6 linked regions of the Homo sapiens genome follow. The protein of the gene in region 5 interacts with the protein of the main gene of each other region in a pairwise test. Each region holds a gene or a part of one and is shown on either strand. Other genes may lie near its edges.

Evidence for each region.
Region 1: the proteins of NPBWR2 (region 5) and NOTCH2NLA interact in binary tests that used the Homo sapiens proteins (3 or more experiments, as listed by UniProt).
Region 2: the proteins of NPBWR2 (region 5) and PSMA3 interact in binary tests that used the Homo sapiens proteins (3 or more experiments, as listed by UniProt).
Region 3: the proteins of NPBWR2 (region 5) and KRTAP10-3 interact in a two-hybrid assay, tested with the Homo sapiens proteins (one large-scale study listed by BioGRID).
Region 4: the proteins of NPBWR2 (region 5) and PHAF1 interact in binary tests that used the Homo sapiens proteins (3 or more experiments, as listed by UniProt).
Region 6: the proteins of NPBWR2 (region 5) and KRTAP6-2 interact in binary tests that used the Homo sapiens proteins (3 or more experiments, as listed by UniProt).

The regions. Positions count from the first base shown.
Region 1 is NC_000001.11:146,222,025-146,226,149, forward strand, and holds part of NOTCH2NLA (notch homolog 2 N-terminal-like protein A), read right to left. Parts: intron 1-4,125.
Region 2 is NC_000014.9:58,268,505-58,272,791, forward strand, and holds the end of PSMA3 (proteasome subunit alpha type-3), read left to right. Parts: intron 1-1,913; coding exon 1,914-1,981; intron 1,982-2,429; coding exon 2,430-2,494; intron 2,495-3,346; coding exon 3,347-3,391; 3' UTR 3,392-3,500; downstream 3,501-4,287. UniProt on the Homo sapiens protein: Component of the 20S core proteasome complex involved in the proteolytic degradation of most intracellular proteins. This complex plays numerous essential roles within the cell by associating with different regulatory particles.
Region 3 is NC_000021.9:44,557,016-44,560,551, reverse strand, and holds KRTAP10-3 (keratin-associated protein 10-3), read left to right. Parts: upstream 1-1,756; 5' UTR 1,757-1,836; coding exon 1,837-2,502; 3' UTR 2,503-2,762; downstream 2,763-3,536. UniProt on the Homo sapiens protein: In the hair cortex, hair keratin intermediate filaments are embedded in an interfilamentous matrix, consisting of hair keratin-associated proteins (KRTAP), which are essential for the formation of a rigid and resistant hair shaft through their extensive disulfide bond cross-linking with abundant cysteine residues of hair keratins.
Region 4 is NC_000016.10:67,130,281-67,134,405, forward strand, and holds part of PHAF1 (phagosome assembly factor 1), read left to right. Parts: intron 1-1,005; coding exon 1,006-1,049; intron 1,050-2,165; coding exon 2,166-2,245; coding exon of another isoform or gene 2,246-2,536; coding exon 2,537-2,631; intron 2,632-3,887; coding exon 3,888-3,985; intron 3,986-4,074; coding exon 4,075-4,125. UniProt on the Homo sapiens protein: Plays a regulatory role in autophagic activity. In complex with BCAS3, associates with the autophagosome formation site during both non-selective and selective autophagy.
Region 5 is NC_000020.11:64,104,473-64,109,340, forward strand, and holds the start of NPBWR2 (neuropeptides B/W receptor type 2), read right to left. Parts: upstream 3,094-4,868; 5' UTR 2,892-3,093; intron 2,451-2,891; 5' UTR 2,360-2,450; coding exon 1,358-2,359; 3' UTR 1-1,357. UniProt on the Homo sapiens protein: Interacts specifically with a number of opioid ligands. Receptor for neuropeptides B and W, which may be involved in neuroendocrine system regulation, food intake and the organization of other signals.
Region 6 is NC_000021.9:30,597,809-30,600,459, reverse strand, and holds KRTAP6-2 (keratin-associated protein 6-2), read left to right. Parts: upstream 1-1,557; 5' UTR 1,558-1,585; coding exon 1,586-1,774; 3' UTR 1,775-1,870; downstream 1,871-2,651. UniProt on the Homo sapiens protein: In the hair cortex, hair keratin intermediate filaments are embedded in an interfilamentous matrix, consisting of hair keratin-associated proteins (KRTAP), which are essential for the formation of a rigid and resistant hair shaft through their extensive disulfide bond cross-linking with abundant cysteine residues of hair keratins.

The sequences.
Region 1 (4,125 bases), on a different chromosome or scaffold from region 5:
TACCCTGTACTTGCTACCACATGATGCCAAGGGAAGCACACAAATTAAGTGTGACAACACACCACAATGCTCCCCCAATACACCACTAAGACAGCAGAGCTACAAAGATAGCAAATGTTAGTGCCAAGGGCTAGTGATCCTACCAGTGAATTACATGGAAACCTATGTATTTACATACACAAATTAATACAATAATTCCTTTGCTTTTCTTATTCCAAGCTATGGCTTTATCATCCCCCTTTCTTGGCTTTACTCTCCTTTTTAAGACCACAATGTATGTTCTGCCATACAGATAATATTCTCCTCAAAAAAGAGAGACAGGAGAAAAAACAGATCTACGGCAAACCTCCTACCACTACCAGTGATGCAGTTTGTCCCGTCTCAAGCCTATGAGCATATCCTTTCAGATCTGAAGCCACTTCCTTCTTCCTATCAAGGACAGTATTATCAAGTGTCTTTGTGAGAGGAGCAATCCTGTGCCCCTTCTTGCAGATTGTTTTGTTCTGCTCAAGAAGCCCTAGATTCCTCCTTTATTTTCCTTTCCTTATTTCATTTGCTGCAGCAGCCCAGAAACCCCAAAAGCAGGACCACCAGAAATGAGTGACCTTTATATCTCTCCACACTAACACATCTGAGGGAAACTGCCGACACCAAATATGTGTTCATGAGCTAATGAAGCAGAAATCCTCAAAGGAAGCACCATTTGCAACGGCTGAGGACAGAATTCTTTAGTGGACACCAAAAAGGCTGTGGAACTCCTATGCATTCTAACATCTCAGGTAACATTCTAATGGAGGAATAAGGAGGCTTACAACAAAGTCATACAACACAAACAGAAGTCCGAAAATGCTGGATTTCGCAAATTTCTTTTAAGACAAAACAAACAACTTTACTAACCTTATACCATAGCAGCTTTCTTCTCTGTACTAAGTGAGGCCAGCAAGTAGGAGGCATTTCCAAGGGGGAAAAATGACCACAGGATCTAGCCAAAGCAACCTGTCTCTAATACTCTCAAAAAACAAACAAACAAAAACAAACACTTTGATTTCCCAGATTCACTCTGCAGTGATTCTAAAACTTTCCTAATGTAAGAATCACCTGGCTATTTCTTGAACACACAAATTCCCAGATGACATTCCAGATGCACTGAATCAGAATCTCCATGAGAACACCTGAGCTATTCTTATCATAAGAGAGGTTAGGGAAACACTGCTTGATAAATGTTATTCTCCCACCAGTGCCCACCTGTGCAGGGAGGTATGAAACAAGTAGGGCTAAGATGCTTTACCTGAGCAATCACCCCAGACATGCTCCTCACTGGGTTTGACTCCTTTTATGGAGAGCTGGGTGTCAGCTCAGTAAAGTCTACAGACAAGCATCTCTTTGGGTCCCTATCACCTGCACAGGTCTCAGGACTCTGAGACAAATTTCTGAGTAGATGTCAATGAGGACAAGTCATGAGGAGATGGATTACAGCTGAATATAAGAAGATCTTTCTAAGAATTAGAGCTGGCCAAAGATGGAATAAACTGCTGTGGAGAGCTGTCTACCACAAGAGATGTTCAAGAAGAGAGAAAATATGGTACCTCTTGACTAGAATGTTGTAAACATCAGATCCAGCATGGGATGGACAGAAAGACTAGATGAATTTTAAAGTTCCCGCCAATGCATAAGTCAACAAAGAGGAAAATTTCAGCCACTCCTTAATTAATTAAAAGAGATAGCAAAAAAAGTCTGTGGGTGGGGTCAGCTTTCAACTGATCCTATCTCTTCAAAGGAAAAAAGAACATAGAAACACACTCCAACTCACCATCAGCCTCTCCTATAGAATGTTCTAAAGGTGGGAAAGCAGGAGTCACAGATGCTGTGACTAAGACCTGCCGCTCAGTTGACTCTGAATTTGGGGCACATGCCAGACAAGTTCTGTAGTACAGAGAAGAAATGTGTGTAGCACAGACCTGGCCCTCAAGGATCAAAATCATGTGGCAGAGACAACTCAACACCATGTGATTCTCTCAAATATTTATTCATCATATTTCACCTTTAGTTTTTGTCAGTAGGGTGTTCAGGGGACTCTCTTGGTTCAAAAAAAAAAAAGCAAATATACTTTACTAAATGTACATATTCTCTCAATCCAGTACAAGTTTGCAATATCCAACTCAATGAAAAAAATCTCAAAAAAAATTATCAAAATAAATATAAACTTAGTTAACTCTAATTTTAAAAATAGTATTCCAAAAATGACTAGTCCCCAAAATGATGAAATTACAATAAGGTGTGGCTATTCTGGACAAAATAACAGAAATTGCTGGCCTAGTAATACAGTAATACAGGAAGCAGTGGAAGCAAACTTGAATGAGAGGCAGGGGGTGGATGGCAGTGCCTTTGAAGTGAGATTCCAAAGTCAAAGTGACCTTTATAAATTGCAGAAGTGATCAGAAAAAGAAAGAAAGAAACCCCACACACAAAGAAATTCAAAATTACAAGTTTAAATGAAACATCTGGGGAAGGGAAAAATTTGGTTTTTCCCCAAATGTAAGGTAAGCATGACTCCTGCAAATACTATTTTTAAAATGTCTAGGAGTACCACAGTTGTCCAAAATAAGAAAGTGGCTAAAAATAATTGTTCGACTGAACAAGTATTTATTGTGTGCCTATTAGATACCAAGGCATCATGCCAGGTACAGGGGTAGGGTATGGGCATTAGAATAAACACATAAATGAAAATACACGATTCCTTCCTCATGTACGCATTAACAATAAGCACTTGAGGATGTTATAAGAGTTTTTGTGCACATAAGCGCATTTGTACACGAGATGGAAGCAATGTGGACAGTGAATGAGGCACTGGACACCAGAAGAAAGGAATTCTAGTCTCAACTCTAATTGGCTCTGTGACCATGAACAATGAACATCAGAAAATGGAGGACCAAAACAGTGGCTCTCCTACAAGGTCACCAAACCAATTAATAACAGACCTGGAGAAGAATTCTGGTCTTCTGGCTCCTAGTTCAGTGATCTGTCCAAAATACTACACATATGGTAGACTGACAAAGAAAGAAAAGAAGACCTTTTGGTTTCAAGTCATTTGCAGAGAAAGGGGGGGAAACAAAAACAGGAAAATCAGGAAAGGGTGGAAGGAAAATTAATAGTTCAAATTTAGGCATTCGAACTGAGACATCAAGAAAGGAAGCATGTAACTATGGACTGTGAACACAATATAAAGAAAATGATGTAAAATTTCTTATATCCTTATTCAAATCACGCCTTGCAGTTTTTTACTCTAAAATCATTGCAGACGTATATAGATAAAGGGTCAAAAAACAACATGTATGAATGACATTTAAGGAAAAAGAGATAACAGAAGAAAAGGGAAAAGGAGAGGTAGAGAATTTATTATATCATCTAAATATATGAAGCCCTTCTAAAGGGTCAATGCAGACATACTGCACCCAGATAAACAGAAGAAATGACATTATATTCTATATCTCTTACGTTAGCAATTTTAAAATTCTTGAGTCAGAAGTGTTAAACACTGGAATGACTAAGGTTACATTTGTTATGGAAATTTCTTAAATTTAGAAAGACCTCATACACACACCTGAAGGTAAAAAAAAAATGTACTTAATCAGTGGGTTGCAACCAAGTTACTTGTCAGAATCACCTGTAAACCTTGAAAAAATATGGATTCTCAAACTTACCTTATCAGAATCCCTGGGTGCTGAGTCCAAGATCCACCCCAACAGATTTTGATGTAGCCAGGACACAGAGTTTTTTTCTACCATAATGGGAGAGGTAGGGAGGAGGATCACTAGGAATGGCAACACAGAGTGGGAACTAGATCAATGCAAATTTTGTGGGCAAAATAGAATTTCTGTGGGTGTGATATTTTTAAAATGTATTGTAAGGCTGCTCTGAACCATCCAAGCATATCCCACTGAATTTAAACATTCTCTAAAGGTCCTGAAGTCAGCAACTACAATCCAGGTGAACCAAAAGTTGCTTCTCTATGTCATAGAAGCCTACAGGAGAGGCAGTAGGGTGGGAATGGAGCAGAGAGATCCCAAGAAGTTATGGGTAAATATTTTTTAAATCTAAACATTCAGAAAAATAAGAGAGACTAGG
Region 2 (4,287 bases), on a different chromosome or scaffold from region 5:
TCCTAGTTTCAGTTGTGAAGCAAGCAGAAGCCATTCTATGATTGTCAGTTAATAATGGCAACACTAGGAACCAACATGCAGCAGAGCTGCTAAGAAAGGAAGTCAGATATCTTCCTTGAATTGTATAGTATGTTATCATGATATACTCTGTTTCCTTCACCGAACCAATCCTTTGAAGTCCTTCTGGAAATCAGTTCTTACCATCTTTTATATTTAGGTATAATGGTAGTCATCTGTTAAGTGTTCCATGTTAGGAAAGCCATCCCTTCATCATTTAAGAAAATGGAGCAGCATGTTATCTTTTACTTAGTTGTAGAAAATCAAGATCCTCTCATATTATAGCAAGGTTTTAGAAGACCCTCCAAAAAGTAAGGTATGTAACTCAGTGCATAGTATTAGATAAAGCTATACTCTGCTACTGTACTTAATTTGATACTTTTTTTTTTTTGAGATGGAGTCTCACTCTGTCGTCCAGACTGGAGGGCAGTGGCACGATCTTGGCTCACTGCAACCTCCGCCTCCCGTGTTCAAGCAATTCTCCTGCATCAGCCTCTCAAGTAGCTGGGATTACAGGCGCCCACCACCACACCTGGCTAATTTTTGTATTTTTAGTAGAGACAGGCTTTACCATCTTGGCCAGGCTGGTCTTGAACTCCTGACCTTGTGATCCACCCACCTTGGCCTCCCAAAGTGCTGGGATTACAGATGTGAACCACCGCACCTGGCCTCTTGATACTTTTTATGTTACTTTAATATGTTGCATGACAGTGCCTCCTTCTTTGCTGTAATTTGTAAGGTACTACAATGTGAAGGCCAGGTTATGTGGCATATATGCCATTATAAAATGGACAAGGAGCTTAAAAAGACTACTGCCAAGAAGCTATAGGTTGAAGAGACCACTAATAATTGCAAGCACATAAATTAGTTTTTTTTTTTTTATTTTTTTGAAACAGAGTCTCACTCTGTTGCCCAGGCTGGAGTGCAGTGTCGTGATCTCAGCTCACTGCAGCCCCTACCTCCTGGGTTCAAGCAAGTCTCCTGCCTCAGTTTCCCGAGTAGTTGGGACTACAGGCCTATGGCCACCTCACCTGGCTAATTTTTGTATTTTTAGTAGAGACGTGGGTTCACCATGTTGGCCAGGATGGTCTCGAACTCCTGACCTCATGATCCACCCGCCTCTGCCTCCCCAAAGTGCTAGGATTACAGGCACGAGCCACCATGTCCAGCCAATTAGTTGGTTTTAAATATATTTAAGTTAATGGACAAAATATTCTAAAAGGGCACAGTTAATGACGCCTCTTCCTAGTGAATCCGTGTTCTTTATGAGGTATCTTTTATAGTTGTATCTTTTTTTTTTTCTGAGATGGAGTCTCGCTCTACTGTAGCCCAGGATGGAGTGCAGTAGTGTGATCTTGGCTCACTGCAACCCCTGCCTCCCGGGTTCAAGGAATTCTCCTGCCTTAGCCTCCTGAGTAGCTGAGATTACAGGCGCCCACCACCACACCTGGCTGATTTTTGTTTCTTAGTAGAGACAGGGTTTCACCATGTTGGCCAGGCTAGTCTCGAACTGACCTCAAGTGATCCATCCGCCTTGGTCTCCCAAAGTGTTGGGATTACAGGTGTGAGCCACTGTGCCCAGCCAAGTTATATCTCTAAAGCAATGTGCAAAAATAAACTGAACTTGGGTTGATTAGGTATATTCAACATTTGTCGGGAGAGTAGATGTTTCATTTTATTTCAGTCCCTGTGTAATTTGTCTTCTCTAATGTTAAATACTATGTAGAATGTGTCTGTGTAATTTTATAGATACTTTTATTATGGATGGACATTCTAATTTGTACTGACTTTGGGTCTGTGAACTACTTCAATGTTTGGAGGTTACCAAAATCTTACCTTTCCCTTTTCTATTCTAGAATTTACATAGTACATGACGAAGTTAAGGATAAAGCTTTTGAACTAGAACTCAGCTGGGTTGGTGAATGTAAGTTATTTTTGTACATTTATTTGCCTTAGGAATGATCTGTACCACAGCTAATTTACAACTGAGTGTCCTTTCTAATATAATGAAAGCTAAAGCAAATTTACTAGGTTGTCTAATGAAGGGAAAGTTCTGCTTAATAATTGACTTAAGTTGTGAACACGTTATTTTTTGAAACATCCATTTCATGGTTTTAAGATACTATGCTATAAATTAATGCTCAGGATTTATAAATAGCATAATTTACTTTCATTTCCATAAGAACTTAATATGTAGGCACATATAATCTCATGTAGAAGCAGCACACAAAAATATTCGAGTATTACTCATAGTACAACTTTGCAACCTTAGGTGAGTCAGATATGTGGATTGGGTAGATCCTATGGTATACTGCAAGTTACAATATGGTACTCAATTTAAAATTCATTTACACATGTGGCTTAATTTACAGTAACTAATGGAAGACATGAAATTGTTCCAAAAGATATAAGAGAAGAAGCAGAGAAATATGCTAAGGTAAGCCACAGCACAAAAACTTCTCTTGGCCAGGTACAGTCAGGGAATCACTTAGCCCAGGAGTTTGAGACCAGCCTGAGCAGCACAGCAAGACCCCCATCCCTAATTTAAAAAAAAAAAAATTCTCTAACCAAAATTATGTGTTGAATAATATAAATAGACTGGGGTGGTTTCTATGAAATAACACTGAGAGTTCAGTTGAACTAAAGATAGAAATTTTCTAGGTTATCTCTAGTGGGTAAAGTTGCCTTGGTTCCAAAAAAAAAAAACTTGGGAGGTTTAGACTGCAAAGAGTTTTTTAGGACTTTTAATACTTTAAATATTTGTTCTTTTTTTTTTTTTTTTTTTTGAGACGGAGTCTTGCTCTGTCACCCAGGCTGGAGGGCAGTGGCACCATCTCTGCTCACTGCAACCTCTGCCTCCAGGGTTCAAGCGATCCTCCTGCCTCCGCCTCCCAAGTAGCTGGGATTACAGGAACATGCCACCATACCTGGCTACTTTTGTATTTTTGGCTTCACCAATAATACAGAGACGGGTTTTCACCAGGCTAGTTTCAAACTCTTGAACTCACGTGATCTGCCTACTTTGGCCCCCGTAAAGTGCTGGGATTACAGGCATGAACACTGCACCAGGCCTCTTAAGTATATATTCTATCAAAGATACAGTCATTGCATGTTAGAGCAACATTTGCTTAATTAACTTTGCTTGGGTATCTTATTCTGAAACTGTTCATTCAGTTACAAGTAGAGGAATTTAACCACTTAATTCAGGTTGTTGTAGCTTAACTTGCCCACAGGTGTGGGATATAACAATTTTAAAAATCAATTTTAAACACCTGTTTTCTCTTAACAGGAATCTCTGAAGGAAGAAGATGAATCAGATGATGATAATATGTAACATTTACTCCAGCATCTATTGTATTTTAAATTTCTACTCCAGTCCAATGTAACTATTTAGCCCTGGATTATACATACTGTCCAATTTTCATTAAATTTTTGTCTTATAACTATTGAAGTTTGGTTAATATCTGCTTTACAAAATTGGTGGGGGTAAATGAGGACATTTACTCAGTATTAAAATATAGATTTATGACTACTGAAAAATTCCCTGGTTAAAATGCTGCAGAATTAATTCCAAGACTGTAGATTAATTCAAAGCCCCATCTTCATCACTCAACTAGAATTTACAGATCATATTCTCCTGGGCTTTTGTACAAAAAGCACCTACCAACTTAGTGGACAAATAACTGATACGGTTTCCCACTTTCATATGAAGTAACTGGTGGTCATCAGTCACTGTTAATCTTTAGATGTGATACAGATGACAGATGTTTCAGTTTTGGATAATTTTTCAAAAACTGACCCTTCTCAAAAAAGACCCTTCAATACATGAGTCAAGGATGTTTTTGCTTTTTTCCTTTATTGTGGTGAGGGGCGGATTTAAGGATCAATAAAGTCCCTATTCTGTCACTAAAAAAATTTCTTGATCTCTAAAGATTAAAATAAAAATACCAACATCAGACAGCTTTCATGTTAAAAATCAGAATTTATGTTAAAGTGCTCTGTAAACAGAACTGTTACTAAGTGGAATAAACAGTACTGTGGCCGATAAGAATAACTTGAAGCTGAAAAGCAGTACTCACAGCAGGAACAATTTGAACTCAGGCCATGTATACACACCCTCTAGTGGACTCATGCCAGTGTCACTCCATTGAAGTGTTGTGCTTTCCTAAGAAGGTAATCTAGCCACTGAATTTGGGTGCAGGGTATCGCTGGACTTTGAGCATTTGTGTA
Region 3 (3,536 bases), on a different chromosome or scaffold from region 5:
CCATGTGACACTGAGAAGAATGTATCTTCTGTTGATTTGGGGTGGAGAGTTCTGCAGATGTCTATTAGGTCCATTTGATCCAGAGCTGAGTTCAAGTTCTGAATATCCTTGTTAATTTTCTGTCACATTGATCTGTCTAATATTGACAGCAGGGTGTTAAAGTTTCCCACTATTATTGTGTGGGAGTCTAAGTCTCTTTGTAGGTCTCTAAGAGCTTGTTTTATGAAACTGGGTGCTTTTATATTTGGTGCATATATATTTAGGATAATTAGCTCTTCTCATTGAATTGATCCCTTTATCATTATGTAATGCCCTTCTTTGTCTTTTTTGATCTTTGTTGGCTTAAAGTCTGTTTTATCAGAGACTAGGATTGCAACCCCTGCTTACGTTGCTTTCCATTTGCTTGGTACATTTTCCTCCATTCCTTTATTTTGAGCCTATGTGTGTCTTTGCAAGTGAGATGGGTCTCCTGAATACAGCACACTGACGGGTCATGACTCTTCATCCAATTTGCCAGTCTGTGTCCAGCTATTATTTCTATGAAATAATATTTTTCCACTGTAGTCTGACTTTGCCAGGTAGTCCTCCAACAGAGCCCTTAGCCATACTCATCAAAGGTCAGAGGCTTCAAACCCTGCAGCCTATGGGCCCCCACCAAGCACTCAGTGGACCCCTGGCCTAATTTTGGAAAGCCCTGCAGCCTAGAGCATCATCAGAGCCTCTGCCTTTGCCATTTCAAAGATTTAGTAGAAAATAGCGATCATAGAGTGAGGAGATGAGGGATCCATGATCAGAACTTTGGGGGCTTACTAGCGCACAGGTATGGTCCCGGGCACAGGCATGGGCTGATACACACAGGTGTATAGGTATTTGTGAGACAAGGCTCTGCAATCAGACCCTTTTATTTGTACATTTACTATGACAATGTCCAGGAGCCAACAGTAGAACTAATACATTCTGATGACTTTCTGGCCCATAAGGGAAGAGACCTTGGAGCTCCCAAGGACACCATTGCAGGTGATGTTGCCCGAGATGTGAGAGGAGAAGGTGTGAACACTATTGTGCACACCACCGGGGGAAGGCCCCATAACAGTTCAACGTGAAATGAAACAAAGGTGCTTGCCCCTCATCTCCATCCCTACTGTGCTGGGCCTGCAGCTGCCTCCCTGCTCCCCTCTGCGAGCCAATCTCTGCCCAGGAAGACACTATTCCCTCACACCTGCCCCAGGGCTCACCCCCAGCAGAAATATGCCCCATGGTTCCCACTGACAACCAGCAGTGTCAACCCACAGGGTGGATCTCGCCGTGTGGCCAGGCCAACTGAGCATCTTCAAACTTGTCCACAGCAGAACACATCTCTCCCTTTCCTCAAGGCCCAGAAACTGAGGTTCTCCTAACCTCATCCCTCCTTAGGTGTAGAAGTCTTTTTTTAAGTGCAAACTCCTCCTGGGATGGAGCAGAGGGCTGTCAATTCCAGAATATCTCCTAACTGCCACTGTCCCTGCTTCTGCAGTGTGCTTTGATGCAATCAATATATTTCTACTAGTTTATCTCTGTGGACAAGCCCACATTAGGGAAGCCCTAACTCCAGTCAGGAGCCTCACAAACCAGAACATCCACAAACAATGAACCAACACTACTAACACAACAGTGCCTACAACAACAACAAGGAAGAGGAAGGCTTCTCGAAGCCAGGCAGGGGCAGCACAATCAACACAGAGGGGTATAAAGGTTCCGACCACTCAGAGGCCTGGCACGATCACTCACTCACTCCCTCACTCACTCCCACACTCACTCACTCACGTCTCCCCCAGCTCACCTCCTCCCCACCCCAGCATGGCCACGTCTACCATGTCCGTCTGCTCCAGCGCTTACTCTGACTCCTGGCAGGTGGACGCCTGCCCAGAGAGCTGCTGTGAGCCCCCCTGCTGCGCCACCAGCTGCTGCGCCCCGGCCCCCTGCCTGACCCTGGTCTGCACCCCAGTGAGCTGTGTGTCCAGCCCCTGCTGCCAGGCGGCCTGTGAGCCCAGCCCCTGCCAGTCAGGCTGCACCAGCTCCTGCACGCCCTCGTGCTGCCAGCAGTCTAGCTGCCAGCCAGCTTGCTGCACATCCTCCCCCTGCCAGCAGGCCTGCTGCGTGCCTGTCTGCTGCAAGCCAGTCTGCTGTGTGCCCGTCTGCTGCAAGCCTGTCTGCTGCAAGCCCATCTGCTGTGTGCCCGTCTGCTCTGGGGCTTCCTCTTCATGCTGCCAGCAGTCTAGCCGCCAGCCGGCTTGCTGCACCACCTCCTGCTGCAGACCCTCCTCCTCCGTGTCCCTCCTCTGCCGCCCCGTGTGCAGGTCCACCTGCTGTGTGCCCATCCCCTCCTGCTGTGCCCCTGCCTCCACCTGCCAGCCCAGCTGCTGCCGCCCGGCCTCCTGCGTGTCCCTCCTCTGCCGCCCCACGTGCTCCCGCCTCTCTTCCGCGTGCTGCGGCCTCTCCTCAGGCCAGAAGTCCAGCTGCTGACGGGCAGGTCCCGTTTCTCCAGAGTTGTTCCAGGGCCATCTCTGACTTCCGAAAATCCTTGCAGCCCTGAGCCCTGTCTGAGTCTCCTCTGCCCATAGCCACTGCACCTCCAGCCAGCAATGCTGAGCTTTCATGCCGATTCCCTCCAGGCATGCATCTCTCCCACACCCTCATCTCCATGCTGGCCAGCCGGTGGTCACTGTGTCCTGCCCCATGTGAGTGATCAGTCTGTCAACAAATAAAGTCACCAATGTGCCCTCTCAGAGGTCTTTTTTGCATATCTGGCAAACCCTGTGGGAAGAACTTCAACGTGCCGCGTGGGGTGGGAGCTTCGGGACTCTGGCCTTGAGCTGCATCCAGGCTGACAGCACCAGGGGCGGAGGCAGTCCTGACTTCCCGCTGTGCGGGGTCTGCTGTTGTGGGGTTCTCCTGCCAGCCTCAGCGTCTCCAGGCCCCGGGGGTGCTTCTCTGTGAATCCCCCACACCCACCCGGCCCGGCCTCTCCCTGGGCTCAGCTCCTCCCCCTCTCTCCTTCCTCTGCCTGTCTGACCCCCACTCATCATCTTCTCACCAGCCCTCTCTTATTAAATAAAATAAATATTTCTCATTCCTGGAAGACATTTTAGAGCTGATCTCTTATTTCAAATATCTGTGCACGGTCATCCCAATGCCTGAAGTCTCTGTGGGTCCATTTCAGCTTTCTGTCATTTCCACCAGTTCTCGCTCATGGTGTCGTTTCCTTGTGTGCTTCACTGTTTGCAGCTGAGTAACCACCTTTGTCCTTGGAAAGTATTTGTGGGCATTTTTGAGGCCTCTAAGACAGGTGTGTTTTCTTTTGCCTTATGTGAGGAACCCTCTCATGTAGCCGACAAAACCTATGGCAGCACCTGCAGCTTTGTCACCAACAGGAATGAGATGCGTGGCGTCACATTATGCCGGCCGCAAATGCTCAAAACCTCATTCTGGCCACTGCTGTTTCATAATTATGGTAGCGCGAGATGCACCTGCTGGGTCCCACCAGGCACATGCTCCCT
Region 4 (4,125 bases), on a different chromosome or scaffold from region 5:
TTGTGATCCGCCCGCCTCGGCCTCCCAAAGTGCTGGGATTATAGGCGTGAGCCACCGTGCCCGGCCTTTTTTTTTTTTTTTTTTTTGAGACGGAGTCTCGCTCTGTCACCCAGGCTGGAGTGCAGTGGCGCAATCTCAGCTCACTGCTACCTCCAACTCCTGGGTTCAAGCGGTTCTCCTGCCTCAGCCTCCACAGTAGCTGGGATTACAGGTGTGTGCCACCACGCCCAGCTAATTTTTGTATTTTTGGTAGAGACAGGATTTCACCATGTTGGTCAGGCTGGTCTGGAACTCCTGACCTCAGGAGATCCACCTACCTGGGCCTCCCAAAGTGCTGGGATTATAGGCGTGAGCCACCGTGCCCGGCTAAAATAAGCTATTTTCTAAAGCAACCCGACCTGGGTTTTAAAATGCAGCAAAATATGAGATGGGAGGAAGGGGGCTTAGTGCCCAAAGCAGAGCCTTAACAAGCTTCATGTCTGTGGAAGAGATCATTGTCCTATAGGGTGGTGTGTGCTCCAGCCTGACCCAGAAGTGGACTGCATGTAAGAGCCTTGACCCAGAGCATCCATGGACATCTGTTGAGCAGTCCACTAGGAGAGGGAAGCTAAGAGGTTATGCTGAAGGGGACACTGGCTATGGTTATGCTGAAGGGGAAACTGGTTTTTTCCCTGGTTTCAAAATAACAAAGGACTGTCATGGTGGCTCATGCTTGTAATCCCAGCACTTTGGGAGGCTAAGACAGGAGGATCATTTGAGCCCAGGAGTTTGAGACCAGCCTGGGCAACATAGTTTTTTAGTTTTGCTAAGATTCTATCTCTACAAAAAGTTTTTAAAAAAATTTTAAATGAGAACAAAAGATAACATGCAGTGCTTCCATAAAATTTCTATTGGTAATAGTTTTTTTTTTTTTTTTTTTTACTATTTATTCTATAAATGTATTTTTAATCATTTTTAGTCTGTCATCACTTTCAGAGCATTGACAACTCTTAAACTTTTTTTTAGGTGATCGAAGTATGTGATTTGACTAAAGTAAAGTTAAAATATTGGTAAGTTTTCTCCCCTGCTGGTATATGTCACACTTGGTATAGACAGGCCATATCTACTATCTTCATAAGTTAGTAAAGATTCACATCTGTCACAGATGTGAATTATAGCCTGGTGCCATGAATTCCTGAGGCAACCTTCAAGCCTGCTCAGTTTCCTGGAGAAGAGAAGTAAACCTCATTAAGAATATGTGATGTGTTTAACACTTCATGTATATGTCATCTAACTTAATCCACTTGACAAAGCCAGACCTCAGCTCAGAGGTGATGTGACAGTCTCCTGGGTCATAGCTGCCCTCCCGCTGACAGCCTCTCTTGGCACCTCTTTTCATGTTTTCATGAGTAACAGAGGTGGGACAAACCAGATAGGTCTGACTCCAAAGCCTATGCTGAAGAGAATGCCAAAGAGACCACCATTTTAGAGCTATAATGTATTTTTTAGAATTACAGCGGGGATGACATGCACAGTCCAAAGTTGTTGCGCCCCCATTATGGCAAGGCAGCATGCCTGCATCTAAAAATCTAGAATACTCCTTCCTTTCTTTCTTTCTTTCTTTTTTTTTTTTGAGACGGAGTCTCTCTCTGTCACCCAGGCTGGTGTGCAGTGGCGCCATCTCAGCTCACTGTAACCTCCACCTCCTGGGTTCAAGCGATAGAATACTCCTTTCAGTAAGTCTCCTTAACTGGCTTCCCTTTCCCTTTTTGAGGGTGTGAAGAGGACCTGATTCCTGGGGCAGGCTCAGGCAGTTTTGCTGATAGAGGAGTAGACAAGCAAATGTGTGGTACCACTGGCCCCTGCAGGTTCTAGTTGTCTTTTAGTTTTACTGGGGCCTTCATACCTCAGGGTCTGGTGGCTTCTCTTCTCTACCCTTTTCTTAAGAGTCACTGGTGTCATAAAGCCCCAGAGGATCAACTCTGTATATCAGCCTCATGAGAACTGACCTTCTCCTGACCTCATTAATGCTCTTATTTAAAAGTTCTCTAATTAAGCTTTGTATTTTGATATAATTAGAGACTCACCTGCCTGTGTCTTAAAAATAACTCTCCCAGCTACTATCTCACATGATCTGTGGGCCCATCTTGTGAAGCCTAGTATTAAAAAATATTTTTGTTTTTCAGTGGCGTGCATTTTAATTCTCAGGCCATAGCTCCTACCATTGAACAGATTGACCAGTCTTTTGGCGCAACCCATCCTGGAGGTAAGCCAAGTCCATCTGATTCCTCTGGTCATCAGTGGCAGTTCATAGCAATAAACCTGCCCGGTAGTGCCATCCCACCCCACTTCCTGGAGTCAGGCTCCCATAGGATTGTGGGGTTGGTACTTGGGTGTGAAGGAAACATCCTCCCCCTTGTTTTCAACCTAGTAGGCCAGTTTAGAAACAAGCCACAGGGAAGGTGTTGTCAGTCATTACTCCCTGCCAGGCTGGTTTATGTTAGCCATTTCAGATGCCAGTCAACCATGTTATTTTCTTCTCCCCCACCCCCAACAGTGTACAACTCCGCTGAGCAGCTCTTCCATCTCAACTTCAGAGGACTGTCTTTCTCTTTTCAGTTAGACTCATGGACTGAGGCTCCAAAGTATGAGGTTAGCCCTTCCTGTCCCCTGGTGTTTGTTGTATGTGTCTGTGGTATGGCTCAGCAGATGGTGTCATGGGATGGGAATAGAGGAGTGGGTATTAGATAGGCAGACTTTCTTTGGTTTCCATGTATTTGAGCTCTACAGGGTAAAGTGGTAGAGTGGGTGGGTTGACAGAGGAAGAACAATGCTCAGGCTGGCATTCCGAGGAAGAGGATACTTCCCACAATGGAGTGAGGTCAGGCTCACTTTTCAGAGATAAGTTCATTCATTCCTTATTTTCAAGCTCCTAATCAACAGTTTTCCTGGTGGCCTAGAATTTGGAGATTTCATCCTCTGGATTTTCAGTTACCTTTGTTTTTGCAAACATTTCATTCATCCTAGGGGCTGTGAAAATGATAAGCTTTCATAAGACTTATTTTAATTAAGGAAGCATTTCTGCATTTTCCCCTATGAAGAAAAGGAAAACTGACCGGGCATGGTGGCTCATGCTTCTAATCCCAGCACTTTGGGAGGCCAAGGCGGGCGGATGACTTGAGGTCAGGAGTTCGAGACCACGTTGGCCAACATGGTGAAACCCTGTCTCTACCAAAAATATTAAAAAAAAAAAAAAAAAAAAACAGGCCGGGCGCAGTGGCTCACGCTTGTAATCCCAGCACTTTGGGAGGCCGAGGCGGGCCTCCTGGCTAACATGGTGAAACCCCGTCTCTATTAAAAATACAAAAAATTTAGCTGGGTGTGGTGGCGGGTGCCTGTAGTCCCAGCTACTTGGGAGGCTGAGGCAGGAGAATGGCGTGAACCCGGGAGGCGGAGCTTGCAGTGAGCCGAGATCATGCCACTGCACTCTAGCCTGGGCGACAGAGCGAGACTCCGTCTCAAAAAAAAAAAAAAAATTAGCTGGTTGTGGTGGTGCACACTTGTAGTCCCAGCTACTCAGGAAGCTGAGGCAGGAGAATCACTTGAACCTGGGAGGTGGAGGTTGCAGTGAGCTGAGATCATGCCACTGTACTCCAACCTGGGTGACAGAGTGAGACTCCGTCTCAAAAAAAAAGAAAAAAAAAGAAAAGGAAAACCAAGCAGAATTAAAGGTGGACTTACATGGTTTTGGGGAGTTTACTGACCCAGAGCCAGAGAGCCAGGTTTAAGGGTGTACTTTGACCCTTTGACCTGAGCAGCTCTTGAAGACCATGAGTGACAGGGAAGACCAGAGCCTGAGTCCCATCACCTGTTGTGCCCTAAGTAAAACTCTTGACCTTTGTTTGCAGCCCAATTTTGCCCATGGCCTGGCTTCTCTCCAGATACCCCATGGAGCAACTGTAAAACGAATGTACATCTACAGTGGCAACAGCCTGCAGGATACCAAGTAAGTATAAGGAGCATGAGTTTCTTGCTAAGGCCTGGGCTGCCTGGGAGAAAGAACCAAGCCTCTGCTCATTCTGTGTCTGTCCCCAGGGCTCCCATGATGCCTCTGAGCTGTTTCCTGGGCAATGTCTATGCTGAGAG
Region 5 (4,868 bases):
GTCGGCCACAGCAGGGGGGTACAGGGGAGCACAGGCCATGGAGAGGACCGTCAGACACAGCAGGGGGGCACAGGGGAGCACAGGCCATGGTGAGGACTGTCGGCCACAGCAGGGGAGCACAGGCCATGGAGAGGACCGTCGGCCACAGCAGGGGAGTATAGGGGAGCACAGGCCATGGAGAGGACCGTCAGACACAGCAGGGGGGTACAGGGGAGCACAGGCCATGGAGAGGACCGTCGGCCACAGCAGGGGAGTATAGGGGAGCACAGGCCATGGTGAGGACTGTCGGCCACAGCAGGGGGGCACAGGGGAGCACAGGCCATGGTGAGGACTGTCGGCCACAGCAGGGGGGTACAGGGGAGCACAGGCCATGGAGAGGACCGTCGGACACAGCAGGGGGGCACAGGGGAGCACAGGCCATGGAGAGGACTGTCGGACACAGCAGGGCGGGTACAGGCCATGGCAAGGACCGTCGGCCACAGCAGGGGGAACACAGCAGCACAGGCCATGGCACATGGGCACGGCGGGGCTGGGCCTCCTGCTGGAACTCCACTTGGGCTTCAGGCCACGAGAGTGGATTTCTGGGTCTCATGCGGTGCAGGTGTCCGCCTTTGCAGCAACACAGCATCGCTGCTGCCTGAGGTGCCCGCACTTACCACCCCCCGGCCCCATCTTGGGGAGAGACTATGTAACGTGGCCCAGGTCAAGATCACAGTTCAGGTTCCCTCCCCTCCCGACCACTGTCATTAGGGATCCTGAGTCCCAGAGCCTTCCAAGGGGCTTGTCCATCTGTCTGTCTCTCGTGGGTAAGTGGGCCCGGGATGCTTGCTGTGTGGGGGCCTCTGCCAGGACCTGGATCCCTGCTGCTGTCCACCCAGGGGCTGTCCAGGAAGCAGAGACATGGGAGGTATATGCCCACGGCTGTCTGTAGGTCTGGTGGCCAGCGTGTGAGGGTCTGTGTCTCCTTGCGTGGAGAGGACAGCACTGGGATGTGAACAGGCCGGGCGTCCCCTGAAAGAGACAGCCGGAACTGGGTGGGGGTGGGCGTGATGATGGGGGTGATGGTGGGGGTGGTGGGGGGGGTGGGCGTGATGATGGGGGTGGGGGTGGGGGTGGGGGTGATGGTGGGCGTGATGGTGGGGGTGGGGGTGATGGGGGTGGGCGTGATGGTGGATGTGATGGGGGTGGGCATGATGATGGGCGTGATGATGGGGGTGGTGGTGGGGGTGATGGTGGGGGTGGTGGTGGGGGTGGGGGGGGGTGGGCCTGATGGGGGTGTGGGCATGATGATGATGGGCGTGATGATGATGGGGGGTGATGATGGGCATGATGATGGGGGTGATGGTGCCCAGGCCCTTCAGCACCGCAATATGCTGCGGAAGTTCTTCCGGAAGTTGTCATCTAGAAAGGCGTAGAGGAAGGGGTTCAGGCACGAGTTGGCGTAGCTGAGGCTGGTGATGACGTAGGACATACTGATGACCAGTGGGGTCTGGGGCAGGTCCGTGGTCAGGGCCACGACAGAGGCCAGGTGGAAGGGCGTCCAGCAGAGGAGGCACACGGCCAGCACGACGAGGACCAGGACGGTCACCTTCCGCCTGGCCTTGCCTAGAGCCTTGGCTCCAGAGCGGAGCCGCACGGCCCGCAGCCTGCGCAGGAGGTCTGTGTAGAGCACACAGATGGTGCACACGGGCAGCACGAAGCCCAGGACCAACGTGTAGACACGGCTGGCCTTGAACCAGACCTGCTCGGGCCACGGGAAGCTCAGCCCACAGCTTGGGACCTGCAGCTCGTTGCTGTAGACGCCAGCGAAAGAGAAGAAGGGCAGAACCAGGACCGTGACGCCCAGCCAGACACACAGGCTGGCGACCTTCGCCCCCCGGTAGGTGCGCCAGGGCATGTGGCGGGACCTCACGGTGGCCAGCACCACCAGGTATCGGTCCACGCTCATCACGGCTAGGAAGTAGATGCTGGAGAAGATGTTGTAGTGGTCGACGGCCAGCACCAGCTTGCAGAGCAGCTCCCCGAAGGGCCAGTACTGCAGCAGGTGCTCCGCGATGTTGACGGGCAGTACCAGCGTGAAGAGCCCGTCGGCGACGGCCAGGTTCAGGATGAACACGTTGGTCACCGTCTTCATCTTGGGCGCCCTTAGGATTACAAGGATGACGGCCGTGTTGCCAGTCAGCCCCACAGCACAGATCCCGGAGTACACGGCGGGCAGGAGCACATAGAGGAACGGCAGTGGCTCGGAGAAGGTGGCATTGTGGCCAGTGCCATTGTCCTGAGAGACGTTGGCACCCATCGTGGGGAGGGAGAAGGAGCCCCTGCTGTCAAGGGGCTCTGGGTGCCCAGCGGCCTGCATTGTAGCTGGGACCGTTGACGATTTGCGCCCTGGGCAGGTGGGAGGTGCCTTGGAGTTGGGTATCTGGTTGGGGGCCTCCTTGGGCTGGATTCTAGGAAAGAAAAACAACCAGAGACTTTGAGATCCGGCCGTCTGTTAGGGCACAGCCACTCCAGGTTCTCTGGCAGAGACTGCGGCCACTTTGCCAGGTCAAGGACATGGGGCCAGAGGGAGCCTGGTGGGGTGTGTGGGGGCCTCCTCCCGCCTCTTCCTGGTGAGACTTCAGCAGATCAGTTCCCTCCTCCCGCAGAGAGCAGCTGCTGGCCACCCTCCTGGGAAGAGATGTGGATCCGTCCCTGCCCCAGCAACCCGCAGATGCACGGGCTGCGTAGAATCAAGCGGTCCCTTTGGAAACACACCTCCCAAGCTCATCTCTGGCTCCCTTGAATCTGAAGGTCCTTCCCTCAGGGGTCTTGGAGTCTGCACCCTCCCTCACACCCTCCCGAGAGATGCTGCAGACCCTGCTGGTCCAGCTACTCTTCTCTCCACTGACCTGTCCAGTGCTTCGAGTCCAGAAGTTGGTAGCCTTGGTGTGTTCCTGGTTTTGGCCAGTACAGGCAGTCGCAGGGATGGAGGGCGAGGTGTGGTCCTCACTGACAGACCTCCAGCTGAGGTTTCAGGAGTTTCAAGACCTGCCCTGCTGGCTGCCTCAGCCCCGGCTGCGAGGTTCCCAGCCTGGTGTCAGTGCTGATGCTGGTGAGGGAGGGAGGCGGATCCCCCTTGCTGACGTGGAGCCCGGAAGGCAGGCCCCACCTTCCCCTGAGCTGCAGTAGCGCCTGCAGTCGGCTGTCCCAGGGTCTCCTCAGCATTCACTTACCCAGGCAGACTCCTCAGTGGGCGGCTGAGGCACGTGTGCGCCTGTGTGTCAGGAAGGGACTCCATGCAGGGGCCTCTGGGTGTGCCCAGGTCTTCGGGCAGAGGGCACTGAAGGCATCTGTGCCTCTGTCCGGGAGTCACTGTGGGCCTGGGCACCCTTATCTGTGAACATGGGTGTCTTGGTGGGTCTCCTGCCCCACCCTGTGTGTGTACATGGTGTGTTCCTGTGTGTGTGTGCCAGTTAGGACATGTACGTGTGTGGGCCTGTGTCTGCCTGTATGGGGGTCTCTGTGGGTGAGCTCTGCGTTGTATCTGAGTGGGTCTACATGTCCTTGGCTGAGTGTGGGCATCTGGGGGGTCTGTATGCCCTCATGTGGAAGCAGAACTTGTTGGCCATAGGCAACCCACCTTCTTTTTTTGTCTTTTGCTAAAAGAGGAACTCAGCCTAGGCAAGCTGTGAAAGGCTGCAGAGAAGACGTTCTCACGCTGACACGTAACTCTCCCGCCGTCCTGCAGAGGTGGTGAGCATCACACTCTGCTCTGGGTTGGTCTTTAAGTCCTTCCCTTCTCCCTGCTTTTCTTCCTTGCTGGACGCACCCTGGCTTATCCAACCCGTGTGTGTGCAGCTCGGCCGCATCTGGACCTGCTTTGCAGGCAACGCCACAGCTGACACGAGCAGTCGCCAGTCTCAGAGCCGCTCCTCAGCGGAGACGTGTTGGGTCAGAGGGTCTGTGTTTTCTTTCCTTTCTTCTTTTTTGAGACAGGGTCTTGCCCTGTCACCCAGGCTGGGGTGCAGTGGCACTATCATGGCTCACTGCAGCCCTGACCTCCCTGGGCTCAGGTGATCCTCCCACCTCAGCCTCTCAAGTAGCTGGGACTACAGGCATGTGCCACCATGCCTGGCTAATTTTTGTGTTTTTTTTTGTAGAGACGGGGTTTCACCATGTTGCCCAGGCTGGTCTCGATCTCCTGAGCTTCAGCCTCTACCTCAGCCTCCCAAAGTGCTCAGGTTATAGCCATGACCCACCGTGCCTGGTCACTGTGTGTTTTCAGTCTGGGGAGATGTGTCTGCCCATCGAGACTGTGCCCGCTGCCTGTGGGGTTGCAAGGATGTCACCGCACACTCATGGTCGGCCTTCTTTCCTGAGAGTTGCTCTGTCAAGTCTATTGGTTAGGACAGGAGCCTGGGCAGTCGCCCTGAGTACCCTGATGTCGCCAGCCTGAGGGTACACTGTGGGTGGGCCCCGAGCTACCCTTCTATGGGCTGTGCCATGTGGATGTTGAGTCCGGGGTCAGGGAACCCTGCTGAGATATCTCACACTCCTCTTCAGCCAGTTTGGGGATGGCGGTGGGGGGGATCTGTGGGTGTGTCTCGAGGGAGCGTGGGGCTTGTAGCCACAGTTTGTCACATAAGTGGAGCTTGACGCCCACAAGGTCAGGGGATGGTGATTAGCAGCCGTGAGGAGAGGGTGCATTGGGGCTGAATTTTGTGATTTGGGGTGTTCGTGGGGTCGGGAGGGGTCAGTTCACAGCTCCTGGAAACCAGAGGCGTGACACAGAGAGGCCAGGCCTGGCATGTGGTGGCCCAGGCATTGACCAGGGTGTGGGCTGGGCCAGGCGGTCACTGGTCTTGGCTGGGGAGCGGCCGACCATG
Region 6 (2,651 bases), on a different chromosome or scaffold from region 5:
TTTTAAAAATCCTACTTTCACCCAATAATATCCTTCAGCCTAAATACATATATGCAGACTTGGGAATAAGAGTGTAGCTCCAAAGTGATAAGGAAGGATGATAAGCGTGTAAGAGAAGTCATGGTGGCAGCATTCACTTGTAAAATGTTGAGTGATAAGGTGTTTCATCACTTTTTGTGGAGCAATATCATTCTCTTTGGTTTATACTTCACATGTAGCTATCATTTTATATATGATTCTAAACCGTGGCAAAGACTTTGATTTTTGACTTCGTTGATTCTGGGTATATAGTAAGAAAAGGACTTCTATTAAAAATCTGAATTTTAAAACAATTCCAGAATTACTCAAAGATTTATTGGCATCATGACTCCCTGAGATGGCACAAGACAAGAGTTACATCTCTTCCCAAATGTATAACCTCAATCTACATATGAGGAAACCTTAGACAGATTCAATTGGGGAATATTCCACAAAATATCTGGCTCTCTAAAATTGTAAGGTCATAAAAGCCAAGAAAAGACGAATGAACCATGAGCAATTGGAGGTGACTAAGAAGTATAAAAACCAAATGCAATGTGAATTGGATCCAAGAACAGAAAAAAAGAACATTAAAATAAATATGTGAATAGTGCTACAATGAACCATGGTCCTAGAACTTAAAATAAAATAAGTTAATAATAACAGAAAAATGGTAAAATAAAGTCTGCAGTTTAGTTAAGAATACTGTACACAGTTAATTTCTTTGGTGTGATAAGTGGATTATGGTTATGAAAGATATTAATATTAGGGATGTTGAATGATGGATATATGGAAATTTTCTATACTATTTTGACAACTATCTCTATGCCTGAGATTATTTTAAGATAAGAAGTTAAAAGAGAATATAAAACTATTGTTCCATTTCATTGACTTGGTCACTTATTAATTCTTTTATAAATCAAGAAAATAACTTACATTTTCTTGTTCTTCCGTAGAGGTTGAACATAAAGGAAAATTAGACTCACTGGTATAAGTAGAAAAATACAACAAATTTTTCTCAGATCTGGTTTTCTAGAATTTTTAATTAGTTGAATTATTATCAACATCATGGCTTTAGTATAGAAAAGACACTAAATCCCTGAAAAAAGTATTATTTGGATAAAGAGAGCAGAAATACTAAAAGGGCAAAGTTATTGTTTGCTGAATGTTGTGCAAAAGAGTACAATTAATTGGGGCCTAGAGCAAATAAGAGTGTAACTAACAAAAGTCTTTCTTGATGTAAAGGATGGCTATAGAAAGTCTAGTTTGAGGCAGGATTATATGAGTGTGAGTGTGTGAGGTCTCCTTTCATCAGAGCCCTCAATCAGATAAGGGGAGCCCAAATTGCAAGGCCAAACAAAACAAGCCTCCTTAATACCTCTGCAGCATTATCTTACAATTGAGAAAAAACAAACTAATTATATTAGTCAAAAAATTAGCCAGTGGTATGCTACCTCTGCTGGATCATTCCCATCCTGAGGCATATAAAAGGACTTCTACAGGAAGTATCCATACTGAAGTCACCTACACTCCTTCCTACCCAAGGACAACCTCCACAACCATCACGATGTGCGGCAGCTACTACGGAAACTACTACGGCGACCATGGCTATGGGTGCTGTGGATACGAAGGCCTAGGCTATGGCTATGGAAGCCTGCGCTGTGGCTATAGCTCCTGCTGTGGCTATGGTCATGGCTACGGCTCCCGCTTCTTCTGTGGCTGTGGCTATGGATGCGGCTCTGGCTACTACTATTGAGGACACCGTGGGAGACTCATCCTCTATCCTGTGACATCGGGATTCACCAATTCTGAACCCCGTATGCTCTGAGCTCGGGGCTGGATGAAGATTATCTTATATTAAAAGTTTCTGATGTGATTTATCTGAAGACTGACCCTCCCACCCCCAGTACCCTCTGGATCTAGTATTTTCAACTTCCTTTTCTGCATTTAATGCATGAAAATTAAAATAATGTAAAATTCATCCTATGAACTCCTGTGGTCTCTCATCAAGATGATGCTGTTATAGATCTTGCTTTTTGATTTTCATGCAGGAACTTATTTTCTGTTTTCCTAATACACTTTTTCAATCTGGAATTACCATCCTGATTTTCTTTTCATTAGTATCCAGTATTTATCTTTTTAGCTTTCTTCCCAATTTATGTTAACCTAACAATGTCTCAACGTAACCCATGTTATCACTGCTTCAATAGAATAGAAAACCGAGCATGAACAGAGCAGAAAACCGTGCATCATTTATGGGTTGATTATTTGCGTATGAAAATCATTTACTGTCAAACTTGTTCTATGTAGTTCATATCACAACTCTACATAAATAATTTATAATCTAAATAACCATAATTAAGTAGCATTTATTAGCCGTTTAGCATAGAGCAATCACTGTGCCAAGTTTTTAACGTACATCATCTCAAATGAGCCTCAGAATGAATGCATGATGTGTTAAAATTTTCCCCATTTTCCTGTAATCCCACCACTTTGGGAAGCTGAGACAGGTGGATCATTTGAGGTCAGGAGTTCAAGACCAGCCTGGCCAATATGGTGAAACCCCGTCTCTATTAAAAATACAAAAAAACCAGCCAGGGGCCATGGTGGTGCACACCTGTAATCCCAGCTAC